Homo sapiens: one gene and its partners. The protein of the gene in region 1 binds, or shares a complex with, the protein of each later gene. Each region holds a gene or a part of one and is shown in the gene's direction. Other genes may lie near its edges. The genes, in order: PPARGC1B, PPARA and NCBP1.

Evidence for each region.
Region 2: the proteins of PPARGC1B (region 1) and PPARA are in contact, whole or in part, in a crystal structure (PDB 3SP6), measured with the Homo sapiens proteins. Residues at the interface, in NP_573570.3 of Homo sapiens: Ser154, Leu155, Leu156, Gln157, Leu159, Leu160, Leu161, Thr163; in NP_001001928.1 of Homo sapiens: Val284, Thr285, Thr288, Glu289, Lys292, Phe297, Leu302, Asn303, Gln305, Val306, Leu309, Pro458, Leu459, Glu462, Ile463.
Region 3: the proteins of PPARGC1B (region 1) and NCBP1 are in contact, whole or in part, in a crystal structure (PDB 6D0Y), measured with the Homo sapiens proteins. Residues at the interface, in NP_573570.3 of Homo sapiens: Tyr1006, Glu1007, Ala1008, Met1009, Asp1010, Phe1011, Asp1012, Leu1014, Leu1015, Lys1016, Glu1017, Ala1018, Gln1019; in NP_002477.1 of Homo sapiens: Glu26, Asp29, His30, Ser33, Leu34, Lys37, Val38, Lys41, Ser42, Ala43, Cys44, Asn49, Gly52, Leu53, Val56.

Annotation. Positions count from the first base shown.
Region 1 is NC_000005.10:149,725,761-149,733,309, forward strand, and holds the start of PPARGC1B (peroxisome proliferator-activated receptor gamma coactivator 1-beta), read left to right. Parts: upstream 1-4,549; 5' UTR 4,550-4,582; coding exon 4,583-4,660; intron 4,661-7,064; exon of another isoform or gene 7,065-7,130; intron 7,131-7,549. UniProt on the Homo sapiens protein: Plays a role of stimulator of transcription factors and nuclear receptors activities. Activates transcriptional activity of estrogen receptor alpha, nuclear respiratory factor 1 (NRF1) and glucocorticoid receptor in the presence of glucocorticoids.
Region 2 is NC_000022.11:46,145,608-46,153,616, forward strand, and holds the start of PPARA (peroxisome proliferator-activated receptor alpha), read left to right. Parts: upstream 1-4,918; 5' UTR 4,919-5,045; intron 5,046-5,180; exon of another isoform or gene 5,181-5,570; intron 5,571-6,280; 5' UTR 6,281-6,363; intron 6,364-8,009. UniProt on the Homo sapiens protein: Ligand-activated transcription factor. Key regulator of lipid metabolism. Activated by the endogenous ligand 1-palmitoyl-2-oleoyl-sn-glycerol-3-phosphocholine (16:0/18:1-GPC). Activated by oleylethanolamide, a naturally occurring lipid that regulates satiety.
Region 3 is NC_000009.12:97,657,821-97,664,820, forward strand, and holds part of NCBP1 (nuclear cap-binding protein subunit 1), read left to right. Parts: intron 1-819; coding exon 820-923; intron 924-3,125; coding exon 3,126-3,248; intron 3,249-4,221; coding exon 4,222-4,324; intron 4,325-5,133; coding exon 5,134-5,227; intron 5,228-6,519; coding exon 6,520-6,623; intron 6,624-7,000. UniProt on the Homo sapiens protein: Component of the cap-binding complex (CBC), which binds cotranscriptionally to the 5'-cap of pre-mRNAs and is involved in various processes such as pre-mRNA splicing, translation regulation, nonsense-mediated mRNA decay, RNA-mediated gene silencing (RNAi) by microRNAs (miRNAs) and mRNA export.

The DNA of each region.
Region 1 (7,549 bases):
GCTTTCCTGGGGAGGTTAGATGCTATGAGACTTTTCACACTCCCTTTCCAGTGTCTGTGGCTCAGACCATGTACACACCCAGGTTCAAATCTGAGCTGTTGTCTCTATGTAGTCTGGGGCCAATCACTTTAACCCCCTTTAAACTTTTGTTTCTTTAGTCATAAAATGGACATCATGATTTACCCTACGGAGGGTTGCTGGAAGGATTAGAGATGCTATAAACTCAGGCGTTGGGCACATGCTCAGTACAGAAAAGCCCTAAGGTTTGGTTGATGTCTATAAACTGCCATAACATCCGGGCTGCAGGACTCTGTAGAGGTTCATCTAGGCTAGCTCCTTCTTCTTTTTTTTTTTTTTTGAGACGGAGTCTTGCTCTGTCGCCCAGGCTGGAGTGCGATGGCACAATCTCAGCTCACTGCAGCCTCCGCCTCCTGGGTTCAAGCAATTCTCCTGACTCAGCCTCCCTAGTAGCTGGGACTACAGGCGGGGGCCACCACGCCCTGCTAATTTTTTGTATTTTTAGTGAGATGAGGTTTCACCCTGTTAGCCAGGATGGTCTAGATCTCCTGACCTCATAATCAGCCTGCCTCAGCCTCCCAAAGTGCTGGGATTATAGGCGTGAGCCACTGCGCCCGGACTGCTCCTTCTTTTTTTTTTTGAGAGGAAGTCTCGCTCTTGTCCCCAGGCTGGAGTGCGCCCAACTGACCACTCCTTCGTTTTTTTGTTTTTTGTTTTTGAGACGAAGTCTTGCTCTTACCCCCAGGCTCACTGCAACCTCCGCCTCCCAGGTTCAAGCGATTCTCCTGCCTCAGCCTCCCGAGGAGCTGAGATTACAGGCACCCGCCACCACACCCGGCTAATTTTTGTATTTTTAGTAGAGATGGGGTTTCACCATGTTGGCCAGGCTGGTCTCGAACTCCTGACCTCAGGTGATCTGCCTGCCTCGACCTCCCAAACTGCTGGGATTACAGGCGTGAGCCACCAGGCCAGGCCGCTCCTTCATTTTATAGATAAGAAAACAGCCTCAGAGAGGAGAAGCAAATGGCACAAGATCATCTAGCACCTCAGGTTTTTTGAGGGCTTTTTTTTTTTGAGATGGGGTCTCAGGCTTTTTTGAGGGCAGTGATGATCACAGGTCACTACAGCCTCAACCTCCTGGGCTCAAGTGATGCTCCCATCTTAGCCTCCAGTGTAGGTGGGACCGCGAGTGTACACCATAAACCCTGGCTAATTTTTTTTTTTTTTTTGTATTTTTTGTAAAGATGGGATCTCCCTATGTTGCCCAGGCTGTTCTCAAACTCCTAGACTCAAGTGATCCTCTGGCCTCAGCCTTCCATTGTTGGGATTACAGGCATGAGCCACCACACCCAGGCCAGGACTTTTAATCTCAATTAAGAACTTCACATTTTTCCATGGGCCAGAGGAACTTCAAATTCCTCCATGAGGCTGAGACTCTGTGAGCAACCTGTGATGAAGGAATTTCTGGGACAATATGCTTTTCAAAAGGACGCTAGATATCTCAGGTGAGGCCCTTTCTCACCTAAATTTCTTGCCAGCCAGAAGACTGTTGTGAGGATGTAGTGACTGGTGAGAAAGTCCCTGACGTTGGGCAATGTGTGGCTTTTCTATCAACACGGGAGTTTTAAAAACAAAAAAGCCTCTGGGAAAGTGCTGTCAGGCCTTCCCTGGCAAGGCAGTGAATGGCACTGCAGCTCTGCAAGGACCAAGGCTAGAGATGGCTGGCTTTGGGGACACTCCCAAGTTTGGCCTCTGGGCTATGAAGGACACACCACCAGTCAGGGGCCAGGCTGGGCCTGGAAGGGACATCTCCAGAAACCATCCCACAGGACTCTGACTCTGGTGCCCAGGGGAGTAGCAAAAAAAATGGGGTCTTGGGAGAATTCAAGTCCTTAGTGCTAATGGTGATGACATTGGTGATGTTGGTGATGATTATAGTGATGATGGGCATTTCCTACCTGCAAGATTCAGGGCCAGGCAACTGACTTTACATGAATTGCATTATTTCATTCAATCCATCCTCACAAGATCCCTATGTGGAGCAGTACCATTGCTATCCCCACTTTACAGATGAGGAAACTGAGGCTCAGAGAGGTTAAGTAAATGACCAAGGGCACATAGCTAGTTTGCACCAGGATTCAAATCTGAATATACTGGAGTCCAAAGTACGCCAGCAGCCTGTAAGTGCTGGAAAAAAGGCAAGTAACATTGGCTAGTGCCTTTAAGGGATATATATTTCTTATTCCCATTTTAACAGAAGGGAAACAGAACAGAGCGCTTAGCGTATTCTCCATGAGGTCAGGCACTGTGCCAAGCACTGTACATATATTATCTCCTCAATCATCAAAACATCCCTATGAAGTTGGTGGTTTTTTGGTCCCCATTTGTGTAGATGAGGAAACCGAGGCCCGAGACTAAATGACTTGCTGTGGTTCCAAATCAGGCAGTGTGACTCCAGGGCCCACGCTCTTCACCCCCTGAATTGCTGGATACTGGAACAAGATGTTCCAGTATCCAGATGCAGGGTCTGAAACAGAACCCAGGACTCCTAACTCCTAGTCTAGGGCTCTGAGGCTAGATGCAGGCTCTCTGTTGGAATGCATTGTTCCTTAAAAGCACACTGGCCTTAAGCCCAAAGAGTGAAATCACGGCCTGCGGTTCTGGGAACCTCAGACTGGAGAAGGAAGCTTTTGCCCTGGTGTTCAAGTCTCAGCAGGTGTGCTGGGGACTCTCCCTCTATTTCCTTCTCCCGCTGGAAGGGAGCCCTTGTTAGGTGGGCAGGGTGGGGCAGCCCTTATGAGTGTAGGGTGGGAGGAGGGCAGGAGGCAGGCGTGCCCAATAAAACAGACCTAAAGCTTCCCGCCTTCTTGCCTTCATCCAGGCAGTGCCCTCATCTCCTGTTTGGTAAACAACAGGGCATGATGATGAGAGTTCAAGGTTGGAGTCAGGAGGTCTGAGTTCTGGTTCTGGCTCAGGCAGTCACTCCATGTACACATTGACAGTCAGTTTCCTTATCTGTATAATGTGTGGTGGTGGTGGTGGCAGAGAATCAAAATTCTCCAGCTTTTTCAGTTAACACATCATCTATTAAGTGCCTACTATGTGCCAGAAACGGCAGATACAGCAAGTGCAAAAGCAGATTTAGGCCCTGCTTTCATGGTGTTAGAGTCTTGTAAGGAGAGATACAAAGATTAAGTCTTCATTGCAACAAATGTAAAACGGCAACTGTGACCAGCTTTTAGAGAAAAAAGGCCTGCTGGTGGAGCTAAGGGAGCCCATGATGGTGGAGGTGGAAGGAGAGGAAATGGCTTGACAGTCCAAGGGGTAATAGGGAAAGATGCCCCGAAGAGATTACTAGGTGAGTGGCAAGCCCGTTGTGAGCGGGCCTGCGGAGGCTGGCAGGAGCCCAGCCCCTTCATGCATTGTGGGCATTGGTAAGAGAACTCATTGGAGTTTTTTGGGGGAAGGGTGCTGGGGACGATGGCAGAGAGAGATATATGATCAGGTTTAGCACAGAATATAGGCAAACGCACCCTTCAAGTAAAAGATAAAAATGCCTCCTCCTCCAAGGAGACTTCCTTGATTTCTTTGCTTTTGATCTATGGTATTTCTCCCTCCTTCTCTGGCCTTGTAGCCTGGGTAGAGAAACAGTCCTCCAGGGGAGTAAGACCTAAGCTTTCCCTTCCTGCAACTGATGTGCGCTGTAGCTTTGAACGAGGTCCTAGGTATATACATACATACATACATACATACATACATACATACATATATATATACATACATATATATACACATACATATATATACATACATATATATACACATACATACATACATATATACACATACATACATACATACATATATATACACATACATACATATATATATATATATATATATATTTTTTTTTTTTTTTTTTTTTCAGGAGGGATATGAAGAGTGACTTACAGGCGCCCGCCACCATGCCTGGCTAATTTTTTTTGTATTTTCAGTAGAGACGGGGTTTCACCATGTTGGCCAGGCTGGTCTCAAACTCCTGACCTCAGGTGATCCACCCGCCTCGGCCTCCCAAAGTGCTGGGATTACAGGCGTGAGCCACTGCGCCCGGCCTTCGAACGAGGTCCTATTCCTTCTCGAGCCTCAGTTTCCCCAGCTGTGCAGAAGAAGCAGGTTGTCTCGCAGGACCCGCCCAGCGCTAACGCAACGTGATTCGCTCTGGCAGGAGCCGGGGGCTGCCCGCATTGCTGCGCAGGCATCGGGCTGCTGGCTGGGGCACCGCCACCTGGCTGCCTGCGCTTTACCCCTTGCTGAGGGCTGCGTGAGCTGGTCGCGGCGCCAGACACGGCGCAGGAAAGTGGGTGAGCGACCCCCGGCTCCCGCGGGCGCCGCGCGGCCCCGCCCCCGCAGCTAGCGGCCCTGCGGCAGCCGGGGGCTCGAGCTCCGCCCTCCGCCTCCCGCCGGCCTCACTCCCTCCTCCCTCCTCCCTTGCTCGCTCGCTGGCTCCCTCCCCCCGGGCCGGCTCGGCGTTGACTCCGCCGCACGCTGCAGCCGCGGCTGGAAGATGGCGGGGAACGACTGCGGCGCGCTGCTGGACGAAGAGCTCTCCTCCTTCTTCCTCAACTATCTCGCTGACACGCAGGTACGGCCGGCTGGGGCTGCGGGCCCGGGGCCAGGGGTGCTGAGCTGCGGGGGCCGCAGCTGCAGCCGCGGAGGCCGGGAGGCAGCGGTGGGAGCCCTGGGGTAACTGGGGGTTCCAGGCTGCAGAGCCCCCCTTCCAGGCGCCCTGCGATGCGCTCCGTTACCGGGGCAGGGAGCCGGAGGTCTCCCGGCGCGTGCCGGAGCGCTGGGGGCGCTACGGCCGCTGGGGAGGGTCTAGCCTTGGCCGCTTGGAGTCTGCCACCCCGCGGGCAAAACTGGGGGGTACCGCGCTTCCTTTGGGAGGTGGAGGCGCGCCACGGTGTGGGGTACCCTCAGGCTGGCGCTGGGTGCTGGAGGCGCGCCGTCAGCGCCCGGCACTTGCTGCCGTACTTTCACGTGGACTTGTGGCCCCGGCACGGGTGCATGCCCGGGTCTCCGGAGTCCCCTAGTCCTCCAGGCTGTAGTCCCCAGAGTGCTGTTGCTGGCCCCCCGCGGCTTTCTACCCGCGCCCGCAGCGCGGAGTTTCCTGCCAGTTGCCGGCTAAAGGCATAAGGGTCTGCGGGGCACGTGGACATGCGGGCGGAGACAGCGTCTTCCTGGTTTCGCTATCGGGCGGAGCCCCCTGGGGGGAAAAGCCAGGCTGGATGGGGGCGGAAGGACTGTCTGGGGGCGCCTGGGTCCCCCTGCGGTGCGCGGCCCCGGTGCGCGCTCCACGATGCAGGGGGAAGGGAAGGCGAGGCGGAGTCCCAGGCACTGGCTGAGCCCGGGAGCCCCACTGGCGACACGCGCGTGACAGGAGAGGGTGCTCTGGTGTGCCGGGGCGCGGGGGAGCGAGGAAGCTGGTGGCTTGGAGACTGGGAGAGGGGTGCTGCTGGGACAAGCAGCCACCAAAAATGTCAGCACGAGGCGTGCGCGGCCCCCACCCCTTCCCCCATTTTCCCCACCCAATGCCTGTTGCAAGCATAAAGTTTGGCTCCAGAGTTAGGGCTTTTTCTCTGGGCGCCCGGCTGCGGGTCATTGGGAAGCTGAGGATGCGGCGGAACCTCGGAGGAGCCCCGGGTGCTGGCACACGCCTGGGCACGGAGAGGGGCGGCCGGGCGGAACCGGGCGCGGCTCGCGGGGGCTGGTTTGGTACCTGGAGTGGGAGCGCCGGTGCCGGCCCGTTTTGCATAACAGTGGAAGGGAGGGGGAAGGCGGAGATTGGGGGAGGGAGGTGGGAGGAGAGAGAGGGAAACTTTGCTTCTTGTTATAATCTGCCTGTCTTTGGGCGGCAGCAGCTGTCATGGGACCGGGTGGGCGGGGAGAGGCTTGCAAGCTGACTCCTTGCGGTGAAACGCGACTTGGAAGGGACGCCGCAGCCGAGACGTTCAGCTCCGGGCAGCGACTTCGGGCTGGCGGCTGGGACGGCGTGGCGTGGCAGGGTGTCGCCGAGAGGAAGCCCGCCACGCGGGAGGCAGGCCGCCCCTGGCCCGCTGCAGACGCCGCTGCGTAGGGGAGCCGCGGGGCCGCGTGGTCGGTGGCGGGCGCGCTCGGGTGGGTTCGCGGCAGAGGCCGGAGGGGCTAGTGGCGTGTGATTGCGCTTCTCGAGATCGAGGGGAATGTGTGATGAGCGGGTTGCGCGCGCGGGTGTGTGTGTGTGTGTGTGTGTGTGTGTGTGTGCACACGCCGCGCGCGCCGGGCGCGTACCTTTACCTCTGACGAAACTGCGGTGGAGCTCCCGCCGTCGTCGCCGGGCTCCGTCACACGCCCCGCGCCGGTGTCTGCGCCGAAGGCAGGTCCCAGCCTCAGTACCCCCAGAGCCGACAGCTTGGGGCTAGCGGGCACTGAGTGCGGGAGGAGGGGCAGAGTCACTCCTGGGAAGATTCTGTCCCCAGATCTCGAAATTGCCCTGGGGCGTCTCCGAATCTCTTGGCTGAAAAGCGGATGAGAGAGGCCTGAAATAGCCGGAGACTCGTTCAGGGACCCATGTCAAGAACTGTCCGCTTTGGACTGTACCCCGGATTTTAACTCGATCTTCAGTGTTTGGCTCAGCAATAATTAATTATTTTGCCCTTTAGCCGCCCAGCGAGCCTAGCTAGCAGAAATATTTCAACTAAGGAAACTAGAAAATTGAATACTCAGGTGTTTGCAGGAGCAGTGCAGTGAAAGTTAATCTGGGACATTTGCTTTTTTTATTTAACCACATGACAGGCCGAGGATCTTCTGGTGATCTTTGCCGGCCCAACTTGGGAAATGTAATTGATAGGATGAGCTTTGAGCCGCCCCTAGAAGGCTCGGAGAGCCCAGCCGGAAGAGGACCTGGGCGGGCCCAGTGTGCTCCTCCTTATTTTACAGCTGGAGAAAGAGGCTGCGAGGAGTGAGCGGCTTGTATGGGACCATGCAGCCAGAGGGTGACAGAGCCACCCAGGGCTCCTGACTCCAGGTCCTGTGTGTTACCTAGAAATAGCACTGGACTTGGAGTCAGAAGGCCTGAGTGGAGTCACCTTCCCCACTCTCTGGCTGGGTGACCCCGGAGCAAGCCATTTGAACTCTCCGAGCCTCATTTCCTCCATCTGTCAAATGGGGCTGGTGGTGCCGCAAGAGAATCCAATGGCCTGGTGGTGGGGGTGAGCAGTGTTTGCATGTGAGATGTTCTGGTTGTTCCTGCAACCCCCTCTCCTCCCCCAAACTTTCCCTGACCCTCCCCTCCTTCATCTCCCTTTGGGAGCTTTGGGGAAAGTGGATTAAATGGTAATTCATTGTCTTTGTCCCAAAAGATTGTTGTTGTCTTTGGTGGCTAATCCAGGGTTAGATTAGAGGGAGGACTTCTGTTTAGGAGACTTAACTTTTACCCATTGGGGCCAAAGTACGGAAATTTAGCAGAACAAGGATTGCGAAAGTTTCTTGGAAA
Region 2 (8,009 bases), on another chromosome or scaffold:
GGCAGGGGGACGGTTGCCAAGCAGGCTTCCTGTAGGAGGCAACTCTTGACAGAGCCCTCAAGCTGGTGGTTACCATGTCCCAAATATGACCCACTCATCAGGCCCCACCCTGCACCACCCCCGTGCTCCCTCCTCAAACTCACACCAGGACCCATCCAGGAAGGCGTCCCTGCCCCATTTTAGAGATGAGGGGGCTCGGATAGCATCACCGGCTGGAGGTTGTAGTTTGAGGAAAAGGTACAGGAGGATTTGAATCCAATTCTGTTGAACTCCAAACCCCAGGCACCCACTCATTCCATGAGGGAAAGTTGGGGGACAGTGCCCACGTGGCACGGTGCTGTGCACGTAAGCTTGCCTGTCTTGTGTGTTTCCAGGCTGTCATGCCAGACCTCATCTCTGCACTTGCAGTCTTCCCTGGCCGCAGCAGTGCCACTCACTGCCAACCACTGGGTCAGATCATTGCAGAATCCAACTCCACACAGAGCAGATTGTCCTTTATGGACCAAATATGTCTATCTGGTTGGGCGCAGCGGCTCACGCCTGTAATCCCAGCACTTTAGGAGGTCAAGGCGAGCGGATCACCTGAGGTCAGGAGTTCGAAACCAGCCTGGTCAACATGGTGAAACCCTGTCTGTATGAAAAATACAAAAAATTAGCCGAGTATGGTGGTAGGTGCCTGTAATCCCAGCTACTCAGGAGGATGAGTCAGGAGAATCACTTGAACCTGGGAGATGGAGGTTGCAATGAGCCGAGATCTCACCACTGCACTCCAGCAAGGACATAAGTGCAGAGCAAGACTCCATCTCAAAAAGAGAAGAGAAGAGAAGAGAAGAGAAGAGAAGAGAAGAGAAGAGAAGAGAAGAGAAGAGAAGAGAAGAGAAGAGAAGGGAAGGGAAGAGAAGAGAAGAAAAAAGAAAAGAAAAGTAAAGAAAGAAAATCCGTCTATCTACACATCACACTTTGCAGTGAGACTCCCACGGCACCTAGCATGACACAGGGAGGGGTCCTGCAGCTTCCAGTCCATGTCCTGGACTGGATAAACAACATCCATGATCTAGCCCTGGAGCTGGATCCTGTGTGACGAGGTGGACACCTGTCCCTTTGGAGGGGCAAAGAAGGGAGGCAGTGCAGCTGCAGGTGGGCTGCCCTGTTCTTCTCAAGATCTACAGAGACAGACATCTGAGCCATGTCGAATGGGCCCTGCTGCAAAGCTGGGGACTGGTTAATTTTCAAAGGGTACAGTGTCATGACAGCAGCAGTTTCTGGACCTGCGGAAGCTTCCAGATCCTGCAAAGCTAGAATGGGTGCACAGCTTAAGCCCCTCCCCACCACCTCAGCTGTGACCACTGGTTAACATGTAGCATGCAGCACTTGGTGCTAATCAGATGGAGTCATGCCTCTGCTGACAACCCTCCATGGCAGGTGTCCCACAGCCCTTAGGACCAAAGTTAAACTCCTCACTGGGCTGCAAGACCTGCCTGGCCAGGGCCTTGCCCAGCTCTGCCCGCTTTGTGCCATCTCCACACTCTCTCCCCTTGAATGTCTCCTGCCACAGGCTTCTGCACATGCTGCTGCCACCCCCCTGGAGCTGTGGGGCCAGGAGCAGCCACCAGGGAAATCTGATCCTTGACCCTGGGCTCCTGAGTCTGCCAGAGGCTGCCGTATCAGCCAACAGACAGCTTCTGCAACAGACAACCGAACCCCGGGGGTACCCAGGGCCAGGTGCTGATGGACTGGGACTCGGGAGAGTTCTCACTCCCTGCCGGGGACCTTGGCCACATGCTGCCATTCCTGGCCCTTCGTTCCTCATCTGTAAGATGAGCATAAGCACAGCTGCCTTGTGGGACTCTTGTAGATTCTGTCCCCTAGTATGACAATACTTTGTTACCTTGGACCCATGGGGTTTTGCTGTCAGTACCAGGATGGCAACTAAGGACATGCCCATGGTTGGCCCTCACCGACGAGGTCCAGCCTTGGGTCGCCAAGCAGCCGCCTGCTCGCTGCCAGTGAGCCCTCCCTTTCTCAGCCCACGGCCCCTGCCCCGGTGGACTTCCACCACCTGACCTGCAGGCACGCTTCCAGGAGCTCAGAGGCCACTGCCCTGGCGGATGACACCCTGGAAGCACACACTCCCCCTTGACAGAGAGCTTTGCACATCAGCAGAGGGCAAGCCAGCAGCAAACTTCGCAGGCCCTGGCTGGCAAACAGACTCCAGCCTGGACCCCAGGCCCATAGGAGAAGCTTCACCCTGGCAGGGTCAGGGAAAGCACTGGGGTCCCTGAACACAGATGACCGTCATCACCTGCTCCCAGCACTCAGGGTCTAACTGCTGCCCTGTACTGAGCGGCCAAGCCCTATCACTCCAGGTTGCCTCCTCCAGCAACCCCTTCCCGTCTGAATTCCCAGCTTCCCAATTCTTTCCCTGAGGCTGTGGGAGAGCCTCGGCTTCTCTGGCTGGCTGGCAGGTCAGCACTTGCAGGAGAGAGCAGCTCAGCAGGGCAGACGTGGGCTTTACAGACCTGCCTTCCGTCCTGCGCCCTGCCGCTGGCCTGGGGGACCCAGTGCAGATGGGGCTTCTCTGTGCCTCAGTCTCCATCTTGCAATGTGGGCACAGTAATAATTACCCTCAGAACATCTTCCGGATCAGAAAATGTAAAAAGGGACCTGAGACAGCATTGTCACCACATAAATGGTAGCTATGAACTAAGATCCATATGCACCAGATGCTCCCAGTAGTCACTAAGGCGCCAGAGAGGAAACTCAGGTGGTGCTCAGAGACATTTTCAGGAGCACTGATTTGTCCTCAAAGTTACAGATTTCTACTCAGTCCCTGCGCCAGCGGTGTTTCTGTTCTGTCGTGTGGCCCTCATTTCATCAGCACTGAAGAAGGTAAAGAGAGACTTCCTGGAGCTGGGAATGGGGGTGAGGGTGTGCCCTTTGTGACAGTTGCTCCCATGCTGGGTGTGTGACAAGGTCTTCGTGGCCAACAGAAAATTGCTTCATCTCTCTCATCTGAGCGTGGTTTCCCAGAAGAAACCTACCACCCCCGGGAAGCATGGATATGGGGCTGTTTCTGGCCAGGATACTCCCAAGAGAAGAGTCCTGAACTTGCTTCTACCCTCAGGACGCCTGCGGGAGACTGGCTGACAGCATTTGATTGAAAATGCTTATTTCTGGGACACATGGATGAAAAACAAGTTTTCTCTCCCTAAAACCTTGGGAGCCCCAAAAAACCCAAGAATATCACTTTCCTATGTCTGCTGAGTGTACGTGACCACTCTGCACACCCCCACATAGCCTTTGTCCTTGTTCATGAGAATGTTCACTAGGTCTTTCAACACCTGGTTGACCTGGGTGGTGCATCTGGGTCACACACCTGTGTGGACCCTGGTCCTTGAGAGTCTGGGATATGGGTATGCCAGGTAATGTCTTTGAGCCCGGAGGTCCTCATGAGGATGTAGCCCCTGAGCTCTGCGTGGGCAGCCCAGGGTCAGCTTCCCTCACCAAACACAACAGGATGACAAGCTTGGATGTGGCTGCCTGCACACCCCACGAGATATGCAGGATATTACGTGTACAGGTCACCCTATAAACTCTGAAACAACATAAATGATAGCTATTGCTGGCTAACATGTGCAAGAGAAGGTGAGGTTGCCGTGTGCCAGTGGGAAGGATATGTGGGTGTCTGGAGGGTGGGGCAAAGTTCACCATAGGTGCCTGGCTAATCAACAAGGGTGAGTTTAAGAGAAGTTTGTGAAAGGGCCAGTTCCCGCCTGATCTCCAGTTCCCCTGCCTAATGAGATCTGGGTTTGCTTTCCGGAGTGGGTCCTCCTGGGCGCCCGCTGCCACAAATAGCACAGTGGCAGGCACAGCTGGCAGCGGAGGGCAGGCAGTGGAGCGGGCATAGCACACATTGCGTTCCCGAGGAGGGGAGCCCTGATGTGCCGGCACCCAGGGGCTTTGTGCATTCCGCTCCGGCAGCTCGAGCGTCACGGCCCGAACAAAGCGGCTTTGCAGGGCGCTCTCCTACTCCTCGCCATTGGCCACCGGGCCGCGACCTCTCCTTGCTCTGGCAGAGTCCCAGCGCCTTGCGTAGGCACAAAGTCAGCCCCTCACCCCCCAGCGCATGAAGTAGGGGCGGGCATGGCTCTTGGGCCGCTGGAGAGGGGTGGGGTTGTGGGGTCGGAGCTGGCGGCGCCTCCCCGAGCCCGTCCGCGTTGCCCTTCACCCTCCTCGTTCCCCCGCCCACCACACCGCCCTGGCACCTCCCGCCACCTGTTTCCTTGTCCTCCCAGCTCGCCTTCCCCTTCTCCTTATTTTGCATCCTGGGGTTCCAGGGACAAGGTCCCTCCCGGGCCGCCTCCCACCCTACGCACTTCTGAGCCTCAAGGGCACCCGGTCCCGGGTCCCGGGTCTAGACCGGCTCATCGCACAGAGTAGCAGAGCCGGGCTCATCGAGGAGGCAGGAGGGGCTCGCCAGCGTGGCACGGGCGCCCGGCGGGAACCTCCACCCGCCCCGCGGCCGCGCGTCCCCGCCTCGAATTCAGCCCCGCCCCGGTGCGCCGGGCTGGAGGGGCGCTGACGCTCAGCGGTGTCCCATCGGTGACCTTGGACGGTCCCTCCACCTCTCCGGCCTCAGTTTCCCTTGGCTGCAGCGGCCGCGGGGCGCTAGGTGGGAGCCGCTGAGCGCTCCCGGGGCCCCGCCCACCGCGAGCAGCCAATCGGGCGCCGCCCTCCGGGGGGTGTGTCCCGGGGCCGAGGCCCGGGGCCCGGAGGGCGCGCGGGGCGGGCGGGGCTTCCGGGTCGGGCCTCGGGACACTGGCTCGCGCGGACCGGGGCAGGGGGCGGGCCGAGGGGCGGTGCGTGTCGCGGGGGCGCGGCTGGCACGGACGCGCGGAGGCGGCGCCGGGCATGGGCCGTGGACGCGGCGGCCCCGCGGCGGGGGCAGCGGGCGGCGGGGGCGGAGGCGGCCGCTAGCGCCCTGCCCGGCGCCGCCTCCTTCGGCGTTCGCCCCACGGACCGGCAGGCGGCGGACCGCGGCCCAGGTGCCCGGGGGCGGGCGGGCGGGCGGGCGGGAACGCGCGCGGGGGTCCGCGGTCCGGGCTTCCCAGGTCCCGGGACCCGGAGGGCGGCGGACGGGGGAGGGGCAGGGGCTGGGCGGCGCATGCGCGGGGCCCGGGGTCTCGGGGTCTCCGGGTCCCGGGGACCCGGGGGCCCGGGGTGCGCGGCTGGGGACCTGAGGGCGAGGAGCGAGGACACACACCGAGGACTCTTGCGAGGGATCTCGGGGCCCAGCTCGGCCTCCCTCCTAGCGCTGGGGGCCTGCCCGGAACCCGAGTCCGCGGCTGTCCCTGGGGTTTGGCGCTGCGCGGAGGTCGGGTCTGGGGACCGCAGCGACTCTGGGTCTTCGGGTTGTCCCCTCGGAGGGAGGGCCCACGGGCGGGGACATCGGGACTTGCCCTTTCCTCGGCGCAGCGGAGCTGGGGCGTCGCCGACTCAGAAGGTGCTTTCCGAGACCTCCAGGGATCTCCGAGGCGAGGAAACCCGGGCCCCGGACAGACCGACCCTGGGTGGGTGCGCCCGGCTTCTGCCGTCGGACGGAGACGCGCGTGTTTGTTCCTCCAGCTGCGACCACCTTTGAGGAACGGTTCCCACTTTGTGCCCCAACGCGGCGGGGCGACCCCGGACAGGCTGCGCTGGGCCGGGTGGCTTCTCTGCGGAAGCCGCGCCACGTCGCTCCCGGTCGGGGCCGCTGAGGGTCGGGCGCCCAGGTCTTTCCGGAGTCCCGGGCTGCGCGGCCCGCGTGGTGCGGGTGAAGCTGGAGGGGCGCGGGGTGGTGCCAGTGGAAGTCAGGAGGGTCGGCCCTGCCCCCTCACGCACCCCAACCGGGCACAACTGCACGCCTGTGCTTTTCTGAAGTCTTTTTTAAAAGTTAAAAGAGAGGAAGTGTGCTCCAAGTGTCAGGATTCTTTCCAAGAAAAACCCACAGTTGTCCAATGGCCTGGGCTTCGTGGGACCTCCGGGGCTGCACGCCCACGTCAGCCTCAGCCGACCCCTGCCAGGAAACCAGGGAGGCCCCTCCTCTCCCAGCCTCCTTGGGATAAGGGTGCCTTGGGGAACTGGGTCAGGGCAAGGACACGGGATTTTCCTGGGAAGGACCCTGCGACACCCGTGTCGTTGCGGGGCAGGGTCAGCATGACTTTCCTCTTCCAAGGTGAAGAGTTGGGGGGCATCCAGAGAACAACCGTAATCACTTCCTCCTTCACCTTCTTACTGCCAGGCTGAAGCTCAGGGCCCTGTCTGCTCTGTGGACTCAACAGTTTGTGGCAAGACAAGCTCAGAACTGAGAAGCTGTCACCACAGGTAAATAGAAGGTTTAATTTACTGTTTCCAGATGGAAATATTTAAGTGTTTTCAGTGTTTACTTCTGTTGCACTACAGACCAGCAATCTGGGGGTTATTACTTTGTGATGCAAGGTTAGATACGTTTTCAGACTGAAAGTAAAATACATGTGCATGGATTCATTTTTTTTTTTTTTTTTTTTTTTTGAGACGGAGTCTCGCTCTGCCGCCCAGGCTGGAGTGCAGTGGCCTAATCTCAGATCACAGCAACCTCTGCCACTGGGGTTCAAGCGATTCTCTTGCCTCAGCCTCCCGAGTAGCTGGGATTACAGGCGCCTGCCACCATGCCCAGCTAATTTTTGTAGTTTTAGTAGAGGCGGGGTTTCACCATCTTGGCCAGGCTGATCTTGAACTCCTGACCTCATGATCCACCTGTTCCTCCCAAAGTGCTGGGATTACAGACGTGAGCCACCGTGCCTGGCCTAGGATTCACTTTGAAGTTCTGAGTTATTGTGTGACTTTTGCTAGGAACTTCATTGCTTCGTGGCAGGCATGTTTTGTATAATTTAAAACTTGATGACATTAACTTTGAGAAACGTGAGTGCTTACTAGACCCTTGGGATGTCCACACTGACTGGTACCGAGTAGTGTACTGTCTCTGAGCTGTTTTCATTTTGATTTGAATATTAAGCAGATGGCTTCTTGAGATAGACCCGTGCCAGAACATGCCAGGGATAGGCTGAAGAAACGGGCCAGATGATACAAATTTGTGTGGTCACCATCCATGAGAGACCAGGGACACTGGGGCTGATGATGACCTCTGCAACTCTGAAGCAAAAGTAAACTAATTGGCAAGTTGGGTGCGGTGGCTCACTCCTGTAATCCCAGCACTTTGGAAGCTGGGGTGGGCAGATCGCTTGAGGCCAGGAGTTCGAGACCAGCCTGGCCAACATGGTGAAACCTTGTCTCTACAAAAAAATAGAAATATTGCCTGGGCATGGTGGCGGACATCTGTAATCCCAGCTACTCAAGAAACTGAGGCAGGAGAATCGCTTGAGCCTGGGAGGTGAAGGTTTTAGTGAACTGAGATTGTGCCACTGCACTGCAGCCTGGGCGCCAGGGCGAGACTCCGTCTCAAAAATAAATAAATAAAATAAAATTAATTAACTAATTGACATTAGAAAAAAATGTTTTTTCTTTCTTTTCCCACATCCTTTTTTTTTTTTTTTTTTTTTTTGTGACAGAGTTTTGCTCTTGTCACCCAGGCTGGAGTGCAGTGGCATGATCTTGGCTCACCGCAACGTCCACCTCACGGATTCGAACAATACTCCTGCCTCAGCCTCCCGAGTAGCTGGGATTACAGGCACTCACCACCACACCCGGCTAATTTTTGTATTTTTAGTAGAGGTGGGTTTCACCATGTTGGCTGGGCTGGTCTCAAACTCCTGACCTCAGGTGAACCGCCTGCCTTGGCCTCCCAAAGGGCTGAGGTTACAGGTGCGAGCCACCGCGCCGGGCCCTTTTCCGACATCTTAAACGTAAAGTAGGAGACGTGTCATAATCATCGAATACTGCAGTGGTTTTCATTAGCTCCTGTTTGTCAAACTTATGAACAGAGTTTTAAAAATTGTGTATCAGCCGGGTGCGGTGGCTCACACCTGTAATCT
Region 3 (7,000 bases), on another chromosome or scaffold:
CTATGAGGATTATTTATTTTGATGCCCAAATTGTCCCTGGTATGTACATGAGGAGCCCCGGTAAGCTCTCTCTCTCTCTCTCTCTCTATATATATATATATATATATTTTTTTTTTTTTTTTTAACGTCCCCAGCCATTCATTGAGCATTCCCTTATTTTCTAGAACAACATATTTAGGATCATCTTGCGTTTTCTTGCCCTATCACTGGAATCATCTATTTATTCATGGAGCCCTAGTTTCTAGTAAAGTAGTAATGGAATATGGTATTTAGGAGCCAAGATCTGGGCACTTGATATGCTCATTGCCATTGGGGTGTCATTGGTTCTAAGCCTCTTGGTGGACACACATCCATCCATCCATAACTGTTTTTATGTCCACCTGTGTGTATATATGCCTCCAATTCCAACTCAATACCTTATTTCTACACTTCTTCTCTACCATGATTTGTAAACACCTTCTCAGGCAGTAACAAACTTGGCTTCCATTATCCTCAATATTTATTTATTTGATAGAATATAGCCAGTTTCCAAAGCGTGCAGTCATCTCCACCATGCCCCATCATCACCCCACATACTTGGCCACCAGGCTCATGAGCTCACTCACCCGCACCTCAGTGCAAGCCAGTGAGTTTTGCAGTATGCCTGAGATTTGGTGTGCTGGCTTAGACAAAAACTCAAAGGATTTTTTTTTCCCTTTCACTTCTTGGTTGTCAGCTGAGTTCAAGTTGTTGGAGATCATGACTTTCCAGGTAAGTCGGGTGTTACCGAAGAATGGGACTGATAAAAGATATTTTCTGAGGCTGTTATTTGTATTGTAGGTTGTCTTACCATCAGCGTATATTAGATATTGTTCCTCCTACCTTCTCAGCTCTGTGTCCTGCAAACCCAACCTGCATTTACAAGTATGGAGATGAAAGTAGCAGTAAGTAATGAAACTAATCCCTCTGTCTTTAAAAGGTACCAGTTCAAGTATATCTGAAGTTAGTTGTTTAAAGTGGAGAAATTGAACTTTTTCTTTTCTTGGGGTTTATATTTCCTGTATTTGAAAGGTGGTCTATCATTAGCCACTGTTTTATTTGCCCTGTCATCATTTTGAGGATTTGGTTGTGATAAAATTAATTACTACTGGCTTATCATTTTTTCTCTTTTGAATGTGTTAAGTATAGCAAGATGAATTTATAGTTAGAACTTACTAAACTGAAAACGTGTATTTGTCATGGTGATGGAGGTTACTTGAATTCATTATCTTGTTCAGGTGTGGTATTGAGAACATAGATGCACATATTTGTGGCAGTATGCCTTTAAAAGTAAATTCTTAATTATGATTTTCTTACCTTTTGGTCACATAATCTCTGAAATTGCACCATAAATCAGGGAGTGTAATTTGATGTGCCATTTTGCCCTTTGCATAGTATTTACACTTAATGAAGGTAAAGTATTATACATTGTTGATCACTGGTAGAGTTAGGTGTGGAGTTTTTCCAACTTGTTCTTTGCAGATTACACTTAACACAGCCCCTCCATGATCCTTCCATTTTGTGTTGTGTAGAGGTTCTTTGTATCTCACAACTTTCTGCTGTTCTTTGCTTTTCATACTGTGTGCCTGTTTCTCCACCTCTGTCTCTGACTGTACCTGTTTTCCTTGAAATGAACTGTGTCGGTCCTGGTACATTTCCTATTTCATTATGTCAACTCTGAAGAATAGATATGATTATCAAAACTACAATGAGGAAATGACTTCCAAGAGGTCAAGCTAGAATGAGATTGCTTTTGAGTGGTGGAGCCCAAATTCAGGCGTAGGTGCACTAACTGAGTGGCCATGCTGTTAGCCACTGTGCTTTTTGGCAGATCAAAGGTTTATGCAGTACTTAGAAGTGCTGGGTTTTGAGTTTTGTCCTGTACTGGTTCCGAGAATGATAAGGTGTAGTCTTTGCTATCAGAAAGCTCAGGCTTTTGTTGAAGATTAAGCTTTCTTTTTGCCCCATAGGAATAACTCCGCCTAACATTCAAGGCCTTCATAACCATTGTTCCTACTTTGTTATTTTTCACTTCTCCCCACATGGACCTCTATTTCTGCCAGGTCCATGTACTTTTTTATTTTTTCCATACTCCCTGTTCTTGACTTTGCCATTACCCCAGTCTGGAAAGCCCTTTCTAGCTCCACTTCCTTTTCTCCTTCTAGATTCTAGCCCAAGCTCAATAGCTGTAAATATTTTTTAACCGTTAGCAAGCCAGTTTTGTATTGCTTCCTGGCTGTGTCTAATGTGAATATCTTGGTTCCCCAGCTAGAATGTAGACTGGTGACAGGGGATTCTGTTTTTCTTCGCCTTCTTTTTTTTAGAGAAAAAGCTCACAGCAGGTGTAATATGACTGTCCTCACATGACTGTTGTAATTTACTTTATTCATTCCAGTAACTCATACTCTATAACAGGATTGCCTTTTTTGTTACCTCTTTGTCTACCTTACATTAAAAGCAGATTTCTTGTTGCTCTGGTGATGCCTTACGGTGTATATTAGCACAAATTTTTATAATAAGGACTCAACTGATACCAACCAATAGTAAATACAAGGAGTCCCATCACGTGAGCATCTGACTTACGTAGATTCAAGCTTGTGGACTCAGCAAAAAAGAAAAGTACAAAAACAAAACCTCTCTGAAGTTGGCAGCCATTACCTTGTTGAGACTCAGACTTCATTTCCACGGTCCCGAGGAAAGAAAGAGGAAGTGGGTGTTGGCAAAATGAAAGAGAAGTACGTTGGTTCTGGGATTTTGAGCCCAGGAGAGTTGAGGGCATTAAAAGACAGTTTAACTGTGTCCACTTTTCTCCTTACCATTCATCTTGAGGATGATCAGCACCTTGTGCTCTAAATTTTACTTAGCTAAGTGTCCTTAATGAATTGTTGAAATGAGAATTGTCCCTTTTTAGGTGAAAAACCATTAACCTATTAGAAAAAGCTTTCACATACGGTATTTATATGTGATTAAATATTGACCTTGGGATAAAGAGCATCCTATTTTGAAAGGAAGAATTTAAAAAAAATTTTTCTCAGTTATTTAACTGTTCATTAGAATAGTCTTGAAACCTGATCTGTCATTCCCCTTACCCCCAATTCTGTGTTTAGATTCTCTTCCTGGACATTCTGTTGCCCTCTGTTTAGCTGTTGCCTTTAAAAGTAAGGCAACCAATGATGAAATCTTCAGCATTCTGAAAGATGTACCAAATCCTAACCAGGATGATGACGACGGTAAGTGGAATTCAGTATTTCTTAAGTGGAACTATGTATAGGCCAACTTAAAGCATAAACATAACTCTGGCAACATGATGCTCTTAAAGCAATATATCTATATCTGTTTGACCTGTTCAGACTGTTGTTCTTAGCACCCCAGGTATTTTCCCCTTATATAAAAAGAGATCCTAACATTTCTGTGATATAGCTTACTTAAGAATATAAACTTCATCGTAAATACAAAGTGAAATATGTTACCATTCAAGGATTTTTAACCCCTGCTTTCACCATAGAGAAGTTCCTGAATAGAAAGACTTGGTGTGTTATAAAGTTGGATGTTTTCTCCAAGTTAAGCTATTAGAATAATAATGTTTAACATTTACTCAGTTATATACCATGTAATTCCAACCAGAATCCTAGGAGTTTTTCTGGGCAAGAGTGGGAAAATTGACAAAATAATTTATACAGTTGCCTGAATCAATAAATGGATATGCACATAGAAAAACTACTGAATCAAAATAAGATATTAGTGGCCTTTGGGTATTTATTACTGGGATTTTGTTTGGATATCTCTAAGAAATTTGTATTATGATATTAGAGAAAATGAGTTTAGAAAGAATAAGCCAAAATGATGGCATTAAATTCAGATGTTGTCAGACATCTTAAGACATAAGCTTAAGTGTTTTTTTTTTTTTTTTTTGGTATTAATATAATAGAGGCTATGAATAAGGAAACCTGTGTGATTTTTTTTTTTCAAGGAATGGATGATAGAATTAAGACAGTCACATAAAACTAAGACTTAAAATTACAAGTGGTTTCATATTTTCAGTGTTTGAAATCAGTGACGGTCTTTTATTGTTTATTAGAACCAAAAAACATTACACAAATATCTGTGTATAGATGTGAGCAACCATCTATTTAGCATTTGAGGTAAGGCACCAAGGAATTGCTGTGCTTACATTTTTCTGTTTTACTATAAAATATTTTTCAGATGAAGGATTCAGTTTTAACCCATTGAAAATAGAAGTCTTTGTACAGACTCTGCTACACTTGGCAGCCAAATCATTCAGCCACTCCTTCAGTGCTCTTGCAAAGTATGTATGAGTACAGAGCCTTGCTTGAGAGTTTGGAATTTTGCTTGGTGAACACCAGTGGTATGGTAATTTTTACCTAAGATTGTTGAATATGAAGATCTTAATAGTGTATAATTGGACACAGTGGGTTTGGGTTTGTGGTAGCTGAAATCCATATCCTAAGGCTTCCGTCAGTCTGTTTGTACAGTTGGCATATGTACATGGTAAGTGCTTTTTTTCATATAGACATTTAAAGAAACTAGTGAAAAACCTAGGTTTTTGGGACAGTCATATGCAGTTGGAAGTTCCCACGCTAAATATCTTTCCAAAGCAATGTAAGAAGAAATTAGAATCAGCTACACTGTTGGGAGTCACGCAAAGGTTGGCATCTGAAGACAGGTATTTTTAACTTGTCAGACAGGGTCCAAAGGAAGAAAGAGCACATAGATTTTCCTTCTGCCAAGCAGAGAAACTGGACATCTCACCCCATCTCTGTCTCCAAGGCTTTATATTACTTGCAGGGTTCCCACAGAAGATGCAGTTTGAATATTTCACCATGTTTGAAGACAGTTCCTTAGTCCTTACCTATTCTTTTAAACTGTAGCCCTGGGCTAACGGTAGTATATTGTAAATGTCTTGAGATTTTGTGACAGCTTCCTTAAAAACTATCAATCTGTGATCACACTTTTTGCATCCTTAATGGTTAATACTTAGTTATTTTGCATTTATATATTGCATTATAAATTGAGTAACATTGAAAAGGCTTTGAAAACACTAAAATGTTTAATGAATAAGTATATATGGTATTTTTTTCCCATCATTATCAAAAGGTTTCATGAAGTCTTCAAAACCCTAGCTGAAAGTGATGAAGGAAAGTTACATGTGCTAAGAGTTATGTTTGAGGTCTGGAGGAACCATCCACAGGTAAAAATTATTTAATTAGACATGTTGAAGCTCTGATTGTATGGGTATAAAAATAAGGCCGTTAATTGCCATTGTTTTGTTTGTAAAACATGAAATTTGACTCTGCCTAGATAATGGTTTTTAGATCTAATTCTTTCAGTGCTATGGGAGTAATGATGTTTCATTCATTCTTGAAAGAGTAAGCATTATTATGATTTGGTTTTGAACTATAATATCTCAATATGTTTTAAATGTTCAGGAAAAGGTTTATCTAGTCTATCCAGTTTCTAAATGCAAGCTCCAGATTTCTCAAACCTTGATATATATTGTGTATGACAAAGAAACATTTAAATAAATTTCATAAAACAGTGAGTGTGTAATGATAAAACATTGTTTTACATTTAACTTCTGGGGTTCATTGAAATTATGTATTTTTTTGAATACGTATTAGTACCTGAAATTTAAATTTTTTTTTGGAGACAGAGTCTCACTCTGTCACCCAGGCTGGAGTGCAGTGGCGCAATCTTGGCTCACTGCAACCTCCGCCTCCCGGGTTCAAGTGATTCCCCTGCCTCAGCCTCCCGAGTAGCTGGGATTACAGGCGTCCACCACCACACCTGGCTGATTTTTGTATTTTTAGTAGAGATGGGGTTTCACCATGTTGGCCAGGCTGGTCTGGAACTCCTGACCTCAGGTGATCTGCCCACCTCGGCCTCCCAAAGTGTGCTAGATTACAGGTGTGAGCCACCGCGCCTGGCCAGTTTTTTCAAATTTTAACTGTTACCATTCAGAGTTTTTGTTTAGTCAACCTGTTTCTTGTAGTGCTAGAGCAAAGCAAAGGGGAGAATAAATCTTAAGACCTAATGATCAGGCCAGGCGTGGTGGCTCTTACCTGTAATCCTAGCACTTTGGGAGGCCGAGATGGATGGATCACTTGAAGCCAGGAGTTCGAGACCAGCCTAGGCAATACAGTGAAACCCCGTCTATACTAAAATTACAAAAATTAGCCAGGCATGGTGGTGCACACCTGTAATCTGAGCTGCTCAGGAGGTTGAGGCAGGAGAATTGCTTGAACCTAGGAGGTGGAGGTTGCAGTGAGCTGAGATCGTGCCACTCCACTCCCGCCTAGGTGACAGAGCAACTCTGTCTCCCAAAAAAAAGACCTAATGGTCAGATTGATCAATCAATTCCATAGCCACCAAAACTAAATTTTATAGCCCTCCTATTTTACTTTTATAGCAGCAGTGTGGTGGCACATATATATGTGTGTGTATGTGTGTGTGTGATTTACTTGAATAATTCTCTCATTGTAGATGATTGCTGTACTAGTGGATAAGATGATTCGTACACAAATAGTTGATTGTGCTGCCGTAGCAAATTGGATCTTCTCTTCAGAACTATCTCGTGACTTTACCAGGTAATATAAATTATTTTATGAAACTTGTGTTCCCTAAGAATTGATATATGTGTGGTCTCTTATACATAAGCTTCAAATTCTGGTCCAAACCAGGTTGATATTAATATACTAATGGTCCAATCTGGTAGGATTGGACATGGCAAAAATTCCTAGACAGTGGAAACATACACAGCCTATCAGGTTGCAGCGTCTCTTAGCAGGGACACTCTTAAGTTGAATCAAGGCTAAGCCAGTGAAGTAGAAATCCTGTTGAAGGATCCAGACTGTTGGGAGAGAAAACTAGCAAGAGCCAGCTATGTGCAGAGTCTCAGCTAGTCCAGATGGAACTCGGGAAGGGTTCCAGCTTCAGTGGGGATGGCACCTAGAATGCACACCAG